2 linked regions of the Homo sapiens genome follow. The protein of the gene in region 1 interacts with the protein of each later gene in a pairwise test. Each region holds a gene or a part of one and is shown on either strand. Other genes may lie near its edges.

What was found. The genes of interacting proteins can lie anywhere in the genome.
Region 2: the proteins of ATOSB (region 1) and PICK1 interact in binary tests that used the Homo sapiens proteins (3 or more experiments, as listed by UniProt).

Annotation. Positions count from the first base shown.
Region 1 is NC_000009.12:35,105,852-35,112,870, forward strand, and holds part of ATOSB (atos homolog protein B), read right to left. Parts: intron 6,542-7,019; exon of another isoform or gene 6,479-6,541; intron 5,806-6,478; exon of another isoform or gene 5,716-5,805; intron 5,602-5,715; exon of another isoform or gene 5,418-5,601; intron 5,365-5,417; exon of another isoform or gene 3,809-5,364; intron 3,780-3,808; exon of another isoform or gene 3,354-3,779; intron 2,887-3,353; 5' UTR 2,743-2,886; intron 2,499-2,742; 5' UTR 2,424-2,498; coding exon 1,530-2,423; intron 1,041-1,529; coding exon 982-1,040; intron 793-981; coding exon 687-792; intron 560-686; coding exon 401-559; intron 159-400; coding exon 90-158; intron 7-89; coding exon 1-6. UniProt on the Homo sapiens protein: Transcription regulator that may syncronize transcriptional and translational programs.
Region 2 is NC_000022.11:38,053,377-38,060,422, forward strand, and holds the start of PICK1 (PRKCA-binding protein), read left to right. Parts: upstream 1-4,027; 5' UTR 4,028-4,211; intron 4,212-4,376; 5' UTR 4,377-4,433; coding exon 4,434-4,474; intron 4,475-5,857; coding exon 5,858-5,969; intron 5,970-7,046. UniProt on the Homo sapiens protein: Probable adapter protein that bind to and organize the subcellular localization of a variety of membrane proteins containing some PDZ recognition sequence.

The DNA.
Region 1 (7,019 bases):
TAAGGTCTAGGGACAGGACAGTCAAGGTTGGTAGGGCCTGAGGGCTGCTTTCCTCTCTCCCCACTCCCACTCCCTCAGGGCAAACTCACCACTTGGACGGTGCCCACCTTGGGCACGCTGTAACCCTTCCTCCCCAAGGGGTTCAGATCCACGATGCCCTGGAAGGCCAGGGAGCCATCAGTCAAGGTGGGGACTAGGAAAACCCTGGGCCCTAAACACATGTCCCTCTCCACAAGCTCTCACCCTGAACCTGCCCCTGCCCTACAGTAGAGTTCTCCTCACCTGGCCCTGACTCACTTCTAGGTGAGGAATAAGTAAGAAATACCTCTTGCCCCCTGGCCCCGCCCCCAAATCCTCATCCTCTTGATGAGCTGACTTTGGGGTTGGAGTCAAGGCATACCAGGAAGGGAGCCGGGGCATTTTGCTCAGAAACATCAAAGAATGTGACAGTGACAGGCAGCGTGACGTGCTGGGGGCAGTATGACCCACTAGCTCCAATTTCTGCTGTGAAGCCCTCAATGTGGCCAGATGGTGCAAAACGTCCTCGCAGCAATGATTCCTGGGATTAGGGTAGGGAAAACACATGAAGAGAGAGATGCCAATTCTTTTCCTTATCCATCCAAGCCACATTCCACCATCCCACCTCTCCCAGGACCCCGGCAATCACAAACCCCAACGGGAGCTACCTCAAAGTTGCCCAGCAGGGTACGGCTGACAGCAGGGGTAGGAACAGGGGAGGCACTGGGGGGGCTCAGCAGGCCTGGCCCCTTCCGGAGGCTTCGAAGGGGGCTCCTGGTAGAGGAAGGGAAACACAGGGGGTTGGCTTGAGGTATTCTGGGATTCCTGCTTATGCCCTTGGACTCCACCCTCTGCCACTATGTAGGGCTTCTGCCCTGGGGTCCCCTACTCGGATGCTGGAAAGAGTACAGACTTCTGCCCCCATTCTCAGGGACAGGGTAGAGGAAAAAGCTGGTCACTTACAGCTTCAGGCGACGGGCTCCTTTCAGCCTCCGCCCCATGGGACCGCAGTCTGTTGGGTCCTACGGAGAGAAATGATTGGGAAAAGACACAGGGTGAAGGCCATGTATGTTTTGGGGCAGAAGCTCATCACAAACTCTCAAAGGAACACCCTGCCCCCCAGGCCTCCACCTTTACCCACACAAATATCCACTTAAGAGTACATGAAGGACAGGCGCAGTGGCTTGAGCGCCTGTAATCACAACACTTTAGAAGGCCAAGGTGGGTCGATGATTTGAGCTCAGGAGTTCGAGACCAGCTTGGGCAACATGGCGAAACCCCATTTCTACCAAAAATACCAAAAATTAGCTGGGTGCAATGTCATGTGCCTGTGGTCCCAGATACTTGGGAGGCTGAGGTTGGAGGATCCCTTGAGCCTGGGAGGAGGAGGTTGCAGTCAGCTGAGATTGTGCCACTGCACTCCAGCAGTGATGGAGTGAGATCCCATCTCAAAAAAAAAAAAAAAAAAAAAAAAGTAAAAAAAGAGTAAATGAGGTCCTTTATTGGCTTACCAAAACAGGCTCTTTGGGCCCAGGCAGCAGGTGGCTCCAGAAGGGTGTGGCTTTGGCATCAGAACTGTTGGCAGCAGTAGGGTGGCCCAGGGATCCCCGGCGCCTCCGAGGGGCTGGCCCCTCTTCCTCAGAGCTGACATCTGGGGCTTCTCCAGCAGGAAGCAGCCTTCGCTTGGTGGGGCAGGGGCCTGGGGGTCCAGGGCCAGGGGGTGTGTGCTCGGGACTGTGCCCATTGGCAGTGCCAGGGGACTCCCTAGGCCAGAGGCTACCCCCATTGCCCACCCCAGCCACTGGGCTCTTACCCCCTATTTGTGCAAGACTGTGCAAATCAGTGTCAAGTGTGTGCAGCTGGCCTGGAGGGGCTGGCCCTGGGGACTCCCCCAGGGACCCCTGTCCCCCTGGATCTGGGGAGGCCCAGTCTCTGGTGTGCAAAGTATTGCAGGAAGCATTTGATGGGGGGCAGGGGGGACTCCAGGCCCCCGAAGTCCAAGATGAGGTGACACTACTTCTCTGTTCCACAACACAGAGGCCACGGTGGGAGAAATGCTGGCTGGCCACACCTAGTCCCAGCCCCGGTCCCTCTGGGCCTAAGAGCCCCACAGTAGATGGTTCTTCAGGGGGTAGTCCCTCTCTGGCCCCCAGCCCAGGGCCTCTCTTCAGCTCCCGGGGACCCTCAGTGGATGGGGCTTGTCGTTTCAGGGCCCTATGAGGCTCAGAGGTACCAGCCGGAGGGGAAAAGATGGATACCTGGTAGACCCCGGGGGATGTCGCCCCCCCTGCTGGGCTGTAGCCCATGAGCAGGCCACCCTGGAGGGCCCCCTGCCTGACTGGAGGCTGTGAAGGGCCAGCCTCCGGCTCTGAGGATGGAGACGGCTCCGCCTGCACGTGGCGCATGAAGCCCCCCTTGGGTCAGGGGGGCCCCCCAACACGGCCTTTATGCTGGGCCTGGGCTGGGGGGCCTGGGGACATCTGTGTAAGAGAAGAGAAGAAAAGGTGGTCAGGGGAATCAATGAGTCTTCTTCCTTCCAGCTGAGTTTCAGACCCTCTCCTTGCCTAAAGGGGTGACTTTGATGGGTTCCCAAGGATGAATGTGTACAAATCCCTGGATGGACTAATGGAATATAGAGACCACTCTCAGAACTCCTGAGAGGGTGACAGGTTTAGCTCAGGCTTCTTACTGGACACACTTCCCCCTCTTCTCCCTGGTACTTACCCCGATGAAGAGGCCTCAAGCCTAGCTGTGCGTCCCCTCTTCCCAACTGATGCCTCGTGCCCCTAGCTTGCAGTCTGATCCATGCCTGCTGCACTGGCAAGGTGACTGCCACCATTCCGTGCAGCTCCTGAGCTCAGCAGGACCCTGAGGAGAGAAGAACAGACGTAAGCCAGGATCACTGGAGCCAGCGGTAAGGCCTGTCACCAATTATAGGCTAATAGTACACTCCAGGACATCCTTCTCCCATGTGAGAGGCTCTTCAGGAACAGAAAGGGTAGGCTTGGGGTCCAGGGCACAGATGGCAGAGTTGGGCTACCTAAGGAGTCAAAGAGGCAGGTCTTGGCTCAGTATAATAAGGATGTGACAAGTGAGTTGAGGTAGAATAACTACTTGTCAGGGCCACCATTTGAGGACTCCTGCCCTACATGGAGGAAGGGATGAGAGACCCCCAAGATCCAAGAGACCGTGTCAGCTGAGAGGCGGCCAGGGGAAGAATTCAGCTTTCTTACTCAAAGCCACCAAATTGCACAACTCCTTCTTATATGTCTATCTCCAAAGGGACAAGTGCCATCCTAGGGCACTAAGGGCAGAGGTCTCCCACACAGTTATACCCCATCAGCGGTCCTCAGAGGTACAAATTTCAAGTCAGCTCAGAGCTGGCCTTTCAGCCCTGAACTCCAAATTGCCTCCAGCAGCCTGTCTCTTTAACAAGAGGCAACAAATCCGACCAAAAACAAGAAGGGGAAGGGGAAGGGGTCACTGCCAGAAGGCACTTTCCAGGGCCCTCCCGCAAGGCCCTGCAAACTAGAGATAAGGCCGCAGCAGTCAGTCAGCTGGAAGCAACTAGGGAGTACCTCTCCACGCCCCTCCCCCAGTGCTCACACACCCAACACCAAAACCCCAAACCACGGGTGCATAAGATGGTCTTCACTAACTATTCCAGCCCATACTAGGGTGAGGGGAATGTCAAGTTGAAAGCCAGCTGCCCCCAGGGTCAGCCTTCTCTTTTGCTGTCTGACATTCACGGTGCTCTTTCCCCTTCAAGAAGTGCCCTTTGAATGCCTACCCAAGACTTTTCCTCCTTGGATAGGTCAAATGCCATCTCCTCCAGAAAGTCTGCTCTGTCCACCCCAGACCATAAGCATCTCTCCCTTCTCTGAGACCTCACCTATGGCAGTGTTACTACTTCCTGTAAGCTCACTAACAGTTCTGCTCACTCCTGTGGGTAAGGCATCTTCTAGACCGACCATAGAGTTCCTGAGGACAGATCTGTGTCCCACCCCTCCATCCAACCCCAAGTACAGGGGTAAGCACACAGCAGGGCTCAAAAAAAGTAGAATGCAAGTCCCAGACATCTGAGCAGCAGTCCTGAGAGTGGAGAGAAAAATTTCCCAGATGAGAGAAGCAGAGAGATTAATTGTACAAGGGAAAATCAGGAACAGAGGTGGGGGTGGGGAGCAGGCAGAAAGGAGAGATTTGTACCCAGGGACTGAAAAGCTCTCCTACACCAAGTTCCCATCATTGTACCCCACTATCCCATTTCACCAAATTCTCCTAAGAATTGGGATCCCTAAGAAAATCCTGGTTCCCTGTGGTGGGCGGGATGGCTGGAAAGGGCAGAACACCAATCGCAACCTGCACTATCCTACCTGCAACCAACCTTGTCAGAAGGTACAACCTGCACTAATTTCTACCCTTCTTTCCTCCACCCAAGCCATACAGATTCAGGAGGGGCCTTTTCCCTAGCACCACCACTTCCAGGTCATCCCAGTTGCCCTCTTGACCCCTTGCCCTGGGGAAGCCAGGGGATGACATGATGCCCTACTTGACCCCAGCATACCTGGCATCTGCTTATTAACCCCAGAGCCCTCTCAGTTCCCACCCTGTCAACAAGACGCTCTATATTCACTCCCCTGCCACCCAGCCAGTCTGGCTCTAGACCATGGCTTCAAGCTGACTCATGGGGCAGGACTGCAGGGGAGGGGGGCAGGGCAGAGTAGGCCAAGCCTCACTCTTCGTTCAGGGGGTGGGCAGCAGCTGGCATCAAACAGCTGTGCCAGGCTGTGGCTGGCAAGGACTACAGCTCCCAACATGCTGAGGGAGCAAGGCCAGCAAAAACAACAAGTCCCAGAATACGTCTGTACCTTTAGACACTTTTGAGGCCTGGGAGGTGGGTGAGGTGGGTATTGGTATAGGTATCAGCTTCAAGGCTCATTCTCCCCTTCCCTTCAGTATTAAAGATTTCCATTTCTACCATGATCAAGGAGAGTGACAGGATGAATTCCTATCCATGTGCTTTCCACCCTCATCCTATGCAAAGAGAACTGCTGCCAGCTGCTCTCTATTTTGTCCCTACATACATCCACACAAGCTAGGGGGGCTGTTCCCACGGACCACCACTGTGGGTAGGAAGGTCGACTTCTTCTCTCTTACCAACCCCTCGGCCCCCAGCCTAGAGCCCTCTATCTTCAGAGGGGAGAGAGCAGACCTTAGCAGACTCTCTAAACTAAGCCAGGCAGACTCACCTGACTCCTGGACTCCTTCTTCTGGACGATCCCTTACCCCCTGCCCAGCCTCCCAGGTCCCTTCTCACTCCTCTCCTCCCCACAGCCTGGGACAGGCCCCATACTATACTGGAGCTTCGGAGATTTGCTCTTTCCCTCTAGCACACTCACCCCGCTCCCAAATTGGCTCCGCGGAGGTGGCCGCTGCTCCGGGCCCTTCCGTCCCGTCCCGTCCCGGTCCCTCCCCTTGGTTCCCCGGTCCTCCCTGCCACGGGCCCCCAACCCAGACAAAGGGTGGCTCAGGCTGAGCCCTGCTCTGCTAGGCTCTTCGCTGTTCAGCTTCGTGTGCAACACTAGCGGGCCCTGGCGCCCGCAGCCCCCCAGCCGCTGCCGCGCCCCTCCCTGCGACGGTCCCTCCCCGGGGCCGCCCCGGCTCCGCGCCGCCGACTCCACTGCCCCTCTGACTCACAGGCCATTTCCTACCAGCTGATGGGGCCGCCCGCCCCGCCCAGTGCCCCACCACCCGCGCCGCGGCGGCCACGGCCGCCACGCCCCCCTCAGGCTACGCCCTCCCTGGAAAGCGACCATGCTCATTGGTCCATAGGAAGCCAGCCTCCCCGCGACCTCAAGTGCGAGGCACGCCCCCTCCAAGAGGCACACGCCTATTGGTCCATAAGGGGGTAGGCTTACCCAAGGTCGCTCCGCCCTTCTCCTTAACCCGACAGCTGCCGGAGTCCAAAGCAACACCCTGCCCTGCCATTTAACCCTTTCAAAGGCGTAGGCCTTCCACATCTTACCCCTCCGCCCTACTCCCCCGCCCTTCCTCCTTCCAGGACGGTTAATAGGAAGCCCGAGGGCTTTAAAGATACGGTTTGACAACCCTCAAAGTCTGCCTGCTGTCTATACCAGACCCCAGACCCCAAATACCTCACTCCCATTTGTCTTTCCCCACCTTCCAAACCAAAGCTTCAGAGCTGGAGAACTAGTGAAGCCCAGGAAGCTTCCTCCATGCCAGAGAAGAAAAAGGCCTGAGGTGGGACCCTATCTCCTTCCATGTTAAGAAGTGGTACTTTTCCCTCTGTTACTCTTAAATTGATGTTCTTTTGCCTTCTTTAGAGGAGCCCCACGGGTTCCTAAGATAGGGATACATTTTAATCTCAGGGACCAGCATTATTCTTTGTGCCTCTGAACTCCCTTTCTGAGATCAGCCTGCCAGCACTCTTTCTACTCACAGGCCCATGTTCAAGGAGACAGAGCATACAGGGAAGTGGGATAGGAGAGCTTCTGCCCAGAATGGGGGAAATGAGCCCAACTCTTGTGATGGAGCTCAACCCCATGACTCACAGCTCCCTCAAAACTATCCACCCTCCCACTGAGTCACTGGGCCCCAGCCCAGTTCAGACCCAGTCAAATCAAATGGCAGCAGAACCGGCATCCCTAACCCTTGTCCTCCTATTCTTTAAATGACCAGGATGGAAACCTTTGCAAGGATTGAGCATTCAAAGACACTTTCTAGAGGGTACTCTAGAGGTAAACTAAGAAAAGCAATAGTCCTGTCTACCCTGCCCTCTGCACTTGTCAGCAAGTCGGATAATTTGGGACTTAGGAGGCTTTTTCTCCCGGTCCTTCACAGAAGCAGGAGGCAAACACCAGAGCCAAAGAGGGAAAGTCCATTCTTCTACAGTTCAGAGGCCACAGAGAGCCCAAGGTCCTTGTTTCTGCCTTGCCTGTGCTGTGGACCCCCCAGGGCCCTGAGGTTATATCACTAGATAG
Region 2 (7,046 bases), on another chromosome or scaffold:
CAGCAAAATAGCTATAAACAGAAGGACGATAAAAACCTCTGACATCTGTGCTCTGTGAATCACTCGCAAAACACTTTCACACCTGGTTCTCCTTTTTTGTCTTCCCCTTTTAATTAATTAATTTATTTATTTATCTATTTTTTTGAGACGGAGTCTCACTCTGTTGCCCAGGCTGGAGTGCAGTGGTGCAATCTCGGCTCACTCCAACCTCTGCCTCCCGCATTCAAGCAATTTTCATGCCTCAGCCTCCCAAGTAGCTTGGACTATAGGCGTGTGCCACCACGCCCGGCTAATTTTTTGTATTTTTAGTAGAGACGGGGTTTCGCCATGTTGGCCAGGTTGGTCTTGAACTCCTGACCTCAGGTTATCCACCTGCCTCGGCCTCCCAAAGTGCTGGGATTACAGGCGAGAGCCACTGCGCCCAGCCTGTCTTCCTCTTTTTAACCACTGTCTTGGGAGGATCATCATCCTCACTCCACAGACACCAAGGCTCAGAGACAAAGGGTGACATGTCCAAGGTCCTCCAGCTAAAAGAGTGGAGCTGGGATTTGAGCTGGAGCCACCCTGGGCTAGGGGAGCTCCAATCTCTGTTACAGCTGTTGGGTTTGAAGGATGCTGTTTTTCCAAAACCAAAATTCAGGACCTAGACACGGCCTGGTGATTCCAGCCCTGTGGAGGAAACTCAGGCCACTGCCACTGTCCCTGTTGAGGCCCTCCTCATCTCTTCCCTGAGACACCCAACCCTCTTGACCCCCTCTGCTCATGCAAGTCCTCTCCTCCTGGATCCAGAGAAAGTTTCATCTCATACTAAAGCCGCAGCGATTTCTGCAAGCACCAGATTTGCAGCCAGGTATTGCGCTGGACATCGTGGCCAATTCAGAGAAGGGCAAAACAGAGCACCTGGCCCCGAACCAGGGGCTTCCTGTCCAGCTGGAAAAACAAGAAGTGCTTACTTGGGTGATAGAATAAGGTACTTGAACTTTCTTTTCCCTCAAATAGATTCCTGGTCCCAACCAGACCCCCTCAATTGACTGGGACATGTTCCTCTGCTGTGTGGGCTGATTCCAGTGACCCCCTCTGCTAAAAAAGCTAAGCAGGTTGTGACATTTTCACACCAACAGTATTACAAAGCAATCTGATTTCCTTTTTCTTGTCTGTCACAATGACACCTGTTGATGGATTCTAAGTATACTATGGAAGATGGGGGTGCCAGAGATTAGAAAGTAAGTTGAGAAAAAGGCCAGGTGCAGTGGCTCACAACTGTAATCCTAGCACTTTGGGAGGCTGAGGTGGGTGGATCATCTGAGGTCAGGAGTTCGAGACCAGCTTGATCAACATGGTGAAACCCCGTCTCTACTAAAAATACAAAAAATTAGCCGGGCATGGTGGTGGGCGCCTGTAATCCCAGCTACTCAGGAGGCTGGGGCAGGAGAATCGCCTGAACCCGGGAGGCAGAAGTTGCAGTGAGCTGAGATCGCACCACTTAACTCCAGCCTGGGCGACAAGAGGGAGACTCCATCTCAAAGAAAAAAAAAAAGAAAGAAAGAAAAGAAAAGAAAAGAAAAAAATTGCAAAAATTAGCCAGGCGTAGCTATGAGCTGTAAGCCCCAAATTTAAAGGGGATAAAAACCTTGCCAGACAAAATACAAGCATGTAATAAATTAATCACTGCAGAATTGGCTCAGGAAAACCATGAAGAGATTTCACAAGGCAAATACACAGCAAATTGCTGAACAAATGATTCAAATAGCAACTGCTCAGGAGCTCAGCTCAGAAAAGGGAGCAAGATATATGAGCTGAGATTGTCTGCTAAGGCTGCCGGGAAGAGGTGAATTAGAGCGGAGCCTGCAGGCAAGGGATGAACAAGGCAGAAAACAGGGGCATCTTCCCCAACCTGAGAAGAAGGGCCAGAGTGGGTAGGGGGTTTTGAGGTCAGAGTGACAGCTGTGCCATGCAAATTGTTTACAAAGCACTCACACCTGTTTCTCCTTTTAATCTTTTGTTTCTGAGATGGAGTCTGGCTCTGTCACCCAGGCTGGCATGCAATGGCGCGATCTCGGTTCACTGCAATCTCCGCCACCCGGGTCCAAGCGATTCTCCTGCCTCAGTCTCCTGAGTAGCTGGGATTACAGGTGCATACCACCATGCCTGGCTAATTTTTGCATTTTTAGTAGAGACGGGGTTTCACCATGTTGGCCAGGCTGGTCCAGATATATGATCTAGATCTTATACCAACTCCTGATCTCATGATCCACACTCCTCAGCCTCCCAAAGTGCTGGGATTACAGGCGTGAGCCACCGCGCCCAGCCTCTCCTTTTAATCTTGACTTTCACAAATACCTGGTGGCAGGTGTCATTTCCCCATTCTACACGTACCTGAGGCTCAGAGTGAGACAGCGACTCACCCAAGATCTCCCAGCTACAAAATGGCAGAGCCTGGGCCTGAGCTAGCATGGTCATGGGCTGGAAGAGCCACAATCCATGTTAAGGCACCTGGGTTTGGAGACTGCTGCCTTTTTTTTTTTTGAAACGGAGTCTCTCTCTGTCGCCCAGGCTGGAGTGCAATGGCCTGATCTCGGCTCACTACAACCTCCCTCTCCTATTTTCAAGCGATTCTCCTGCCTCAGGCTCCCAAATAGCTGGAATTACAGGTGTGCGCCACCGCACCTGGCCTTAGACTGCTGCTTTTTGAAACCAAAATTCTGGCCTGGAAACAGAGCTTGGTTTTCCCAGCCCCAGCCCTGCCGCTATGATACCAGAGGAAGAGGCTTCCCAGGGCCTCCGTTTCCTTGCCTGCACAATGTGGCTGGCAAGATTTGGTCTTCTCTCACAGGGTGGTGGTGAGCTTTCAAATCCTGTGAAAGTGATCTCACAGGAGAGCAGTGGACACGTGGGAAGGCTGTTATTGTCACGGCATTCTGCACATCTGTCCGGACTCAATTAGCCACCTAAGGAGAGAGTAGGGCGGGGCTTCCACCGGCCGTGGGATATGTGGATAATCATCCTTCTGTATCTTTCTTCCATGGCTCCTGGGGCAGCTGGGGAAGCAAGCTGGATGGGCCTGGCCCCATGCTGCCGGATGAGGTGGATGCCTGGCTGTGGCTCTGGGAGAGCCAACCTCCCCCAGGGAACCCACTTTACACAATAGCAGTGGCAGCAGAGGCTGGCGAGGAGACAAGATTCGGACTCTGGGGAGCACTGATAGCATTTCCCGAGCCTCAGGTACATGCGGACCGTGACCCTCCCTGGGACCCCAGGGGGGCTGCTCCTCAGGACTAAGGAAGGAGGAGGGGGTGTGAGAAACCTTTCACCATATACCATAGAAAGCATTTACCTCAATGGCCTTGGTTTACATATGGGGAAACTGAGGCACATAAAGGGAAGGGAGCATGTCCAGTCTGTCCTTAATAGCAAGACCCACTGAATACACCTCTCCTGGCTCTCTGTTTAGTGTTTGGACGTTCAAAGATCCCTAGACTAGGCGGCGGGAGTTTCAGGGCCACGATCCAGATCTTACACCAACTGTGTGTGGCCCCGCACAAAATCACTCCCCGCTCTTTGGCACTTAAGTTGGCGAAACTGGGATGGGCTGGGACCTCAAAGGGCCATTCTAGTAGGGGAGTCACAGGCCCAGGTGGTGAAGGGGTGAAAGGGCATGATGTCTTGGGGTTTATAGTCCACTGAGCCTCGCCGGAGGTAACCCCGGCTCAGGGATGCTTTCGTTGCCATGGCAACCGCCGGGCCGGCGCGGGCCCCTGAGTGCAGCTGAGGAAGCTGGGACAAACCCTGCCCTTCCCAAGATGGCGGCGGCGGCAGGGCAAAGGGCGGGGTTAGACGCTGTCAGCCTGTCCAGACCGTTCCTCTGTTTTCGCTTGTTCCTACTAACAGCGAGCTTCCGCCAATACTTGTTCTCGTTCTTGGTTCCGAGCGTCCCGGGAGCCGGGAAGGGAAGGATTGTCTGCAGGGATTGGAGCAAATATCCAGTGGGGGGAAAGCCGGGACTTCCGCGTCTTGCCGGAAGTGACGTGACAATCGCGGCCACCGCCAGGTGGAACGGCAGGTGGGTTCAGGTACCAGCCTGGCCGGGACCCGGCTGTGGGACCAACGCTTCCGGTGAGCGACAGAGGCAGCTCCCCAGGGCCTGGAGACCCGTGGGGCGGACTCTGGGATCTGAGCCTATCGCCCTGGCCTGGAGCCCCCCTTTGTACCTAGTAAGAATCACCTACCCAGCCCCCCACCCGGAGACTGTCCCATCCCACTCCAGAGGGAAGAGGAGGGCACTGCTGTCCCGTATGAGGTGGTGGAGGGAGGGGTGGCGTTGGCATTTAGGCACTTGGGTTCCTTAAATCCTATGCTCCTTTCTCTCCCGGATCCAGTTCCCCATTCCCCTACCGAGCTGGGCAGTTAGCCAGCCCACTCCAACTCTCGGAACCATGTTTGCAGACTTGGATTATGACATCGAAGAGGATAAACTGTGAGTATTTTATTCCCCCAAGTTCCAGCAGTATAGGAGCCCCAAGTTCCTCATTTCCCTGGACTTCCCAGTCCCACAGACCCTTGCTTCTCAGCGGTGGATCAGTTGTTGTACTGAAGCAGCAATGGACCCTGCTCTCCCAGGAGCTCACTATTTGTAGGGGGCTGTGGACAGTTAAAGGGATAATCACAGCTCAGTGCCATAAGGGCACTATTAGCATGACTTGGTGACAAGAAGAGCAAAGCAGATGGAGCAGTGCTTCTGCTGGGATGGTCAAGGAAAGCTTCATGGAGGACGTAGCAATTGAACCAGGTTTTGAAGGTTGAATAGGAATATTGTAGACACCCTTCCTTCCCAACATAGGTTGTTAGTAGGACAGATTTTCCCATTAGAATATATCCTCTTTCAGATCAAGGAGTGGGTGCAATGCCTTTCTCTATGCTCAGCACTTAGTAAGGGACTTGACGTCAGTAGGTTGTTAGCGAATGTTTTTTGAATGAATAAGTGAATCAGCGTGAGTACTTATCATAAAACACCAGTCAATGCTAATTTATAGTGGAAACCGAGAGGTAATCGAGCAGTTGAGAGGTGGGAGGTGGACAGTTTAATAGAGGAAGACTCCCTGGAGTAGGTGGCCATCATACTACATAGATGCCTGATAAGGTGACAAGGACAGAACCTGGCTCAAATCTCAGAGATCGAATAAATGAAAGGGAAGGGGGACCTATTTTTATGGAGTGCCTGCTATGGACTGGGTTGCTGTTAGTGCCCTCCATGCATGGTTAGAAGAACTCTGATAAGGGTGCTCATCCACATTTTATGGATGAGGAAATTGAGATGCACAGAGGCTGACTTACCCAAGTCCCATAGCTGGCCAGGCACGGTGGCTCACGCCTGTAATCCCAGCACTTTGGGAGGCTGAGGCAGGCGGATCAACTGAGGTCAGGAGTTCAAGACCAGCCTGGCCAACATGGTGAAACCCCGTCTCTACTAAAAATACAAAAAAATCAGCCAGGCGTGGTGGCAGGCACCTGTAGTCCCAGCTACTTGGGCGACTGAGGCAGGAGAATCACTTGAACCCGGGAGGCGGAGGTTGCAGTGAGCCGAGATTGCGCCATTGCACTCTAGCCTGGGCAACAAGAGTAAGACTCCATCTCAAAAAAAAACCAAGTTCCACAGCTGATAAATGGCAGAGCTGGGGTTTGATCCCACATCTGCTTAACTCCAAGAGCTGTGCATGTTCCAGCACAAAATGTTGTTTTGTCCAAGGGAGGGAGAGAAAAAGCTGGGCAGCCAGTGGAGCCCCTCAGGAGTTTTAGAGGGCCCACCCGCTCCAGTCATCCTTCTGCCAGGAGAGTCAGCCTAGCTTGCTTTCCTTTCTAGCGGAATCCCGACTGTGCCTGGGAAGGTGACCCTGCAGAAGGATGCTCAGAACCTGATCGGGATCAGCATTGGAGGAGGGGCCCAGTACTGTCCCTGCCTCTATATCGTCCAGGTATTGGGCGCTTTGGAGGGGGGCACAAGGTACATCCCTACTTGGGCATGACAAAGGCAGGTTCATTTCTCCACACTGCATAGCTGACTCCTTCTCATTCTTGAGGTCTGACCCTCTCAGAGGGGCTTTCTGACCACCTGCGCTGCGTTGCTCTGCCCTGTCTTCTCCCCTGTGTCGCTCTGTTTTTTTCCTTCTCGGCACTTATTACTTGTTATTTGCCCTCTGTCTAGTAGAGTAGACTCTTTGCACTGAGGGCAGTGTCCTGGTTTGCTTTTTCACTGCAGTAAGCACCAGGTACAGTGCCTGGCACATAGTGGACATGCAATAGAAATTGACTATTGAATCAACAAAACCATCAGCCTTGCGTACTAGCCAAAATGAAGTGTCATAGGAACACGATGAAATAATGGCCTGAGTTCAAATGCAAGCTTCTTTCCTACTTACTAGCAAGTTACTTAACCTCTTTGGGCCTCAGTTTCATCACCTAGAAAGCGGGGATTTAAAACATGTAGACACAATCATCTCTGGGTTCTTGTGAGAAGTCAACAAAACGACCTAACACACTAGAAGTTAAGAAACGTGCATTGGCCAGGCATAGTGGCTCACACCTGTAATCCCAGCACTTTGGGAGGCCGAGGTGGGTGGATCACGAGGTCAGGAGTTCGAGACCAGCCTGGCCAACATGGTGAAACCCCGTCTCTACTAAAATACAAAAATTAGCTGGGCGTGGTGGTGCACGCCTGTACTTCCAGCTACTTGGGAGGCTGAAGTAGGAGAATCGCTTGAACCTGGAAAGTAGAGGTTGCAGTGAGCTGAGATCACGCCACTGCATTCCGTGCATTCCAGCCTGGGTGACCGAGTGAGACCCTGTTTCAAAAAAAAGAAAGAACCATGCATTAAGCAGTAGCTGCTGCTATTTTCCAGGTAGCTGTACATTTTCCCAGATGCTCTGCCAGTGGTGAGGAACACTCTTGTGTCTCTTGCAGAGGAAGCTGCACTGGTGATATTCTGTCCACTGTAACTCAGGAGTGGTGACAGGCCTGCTGTGGGGCCTCCTTCACTGTGTGGCTCATCCAA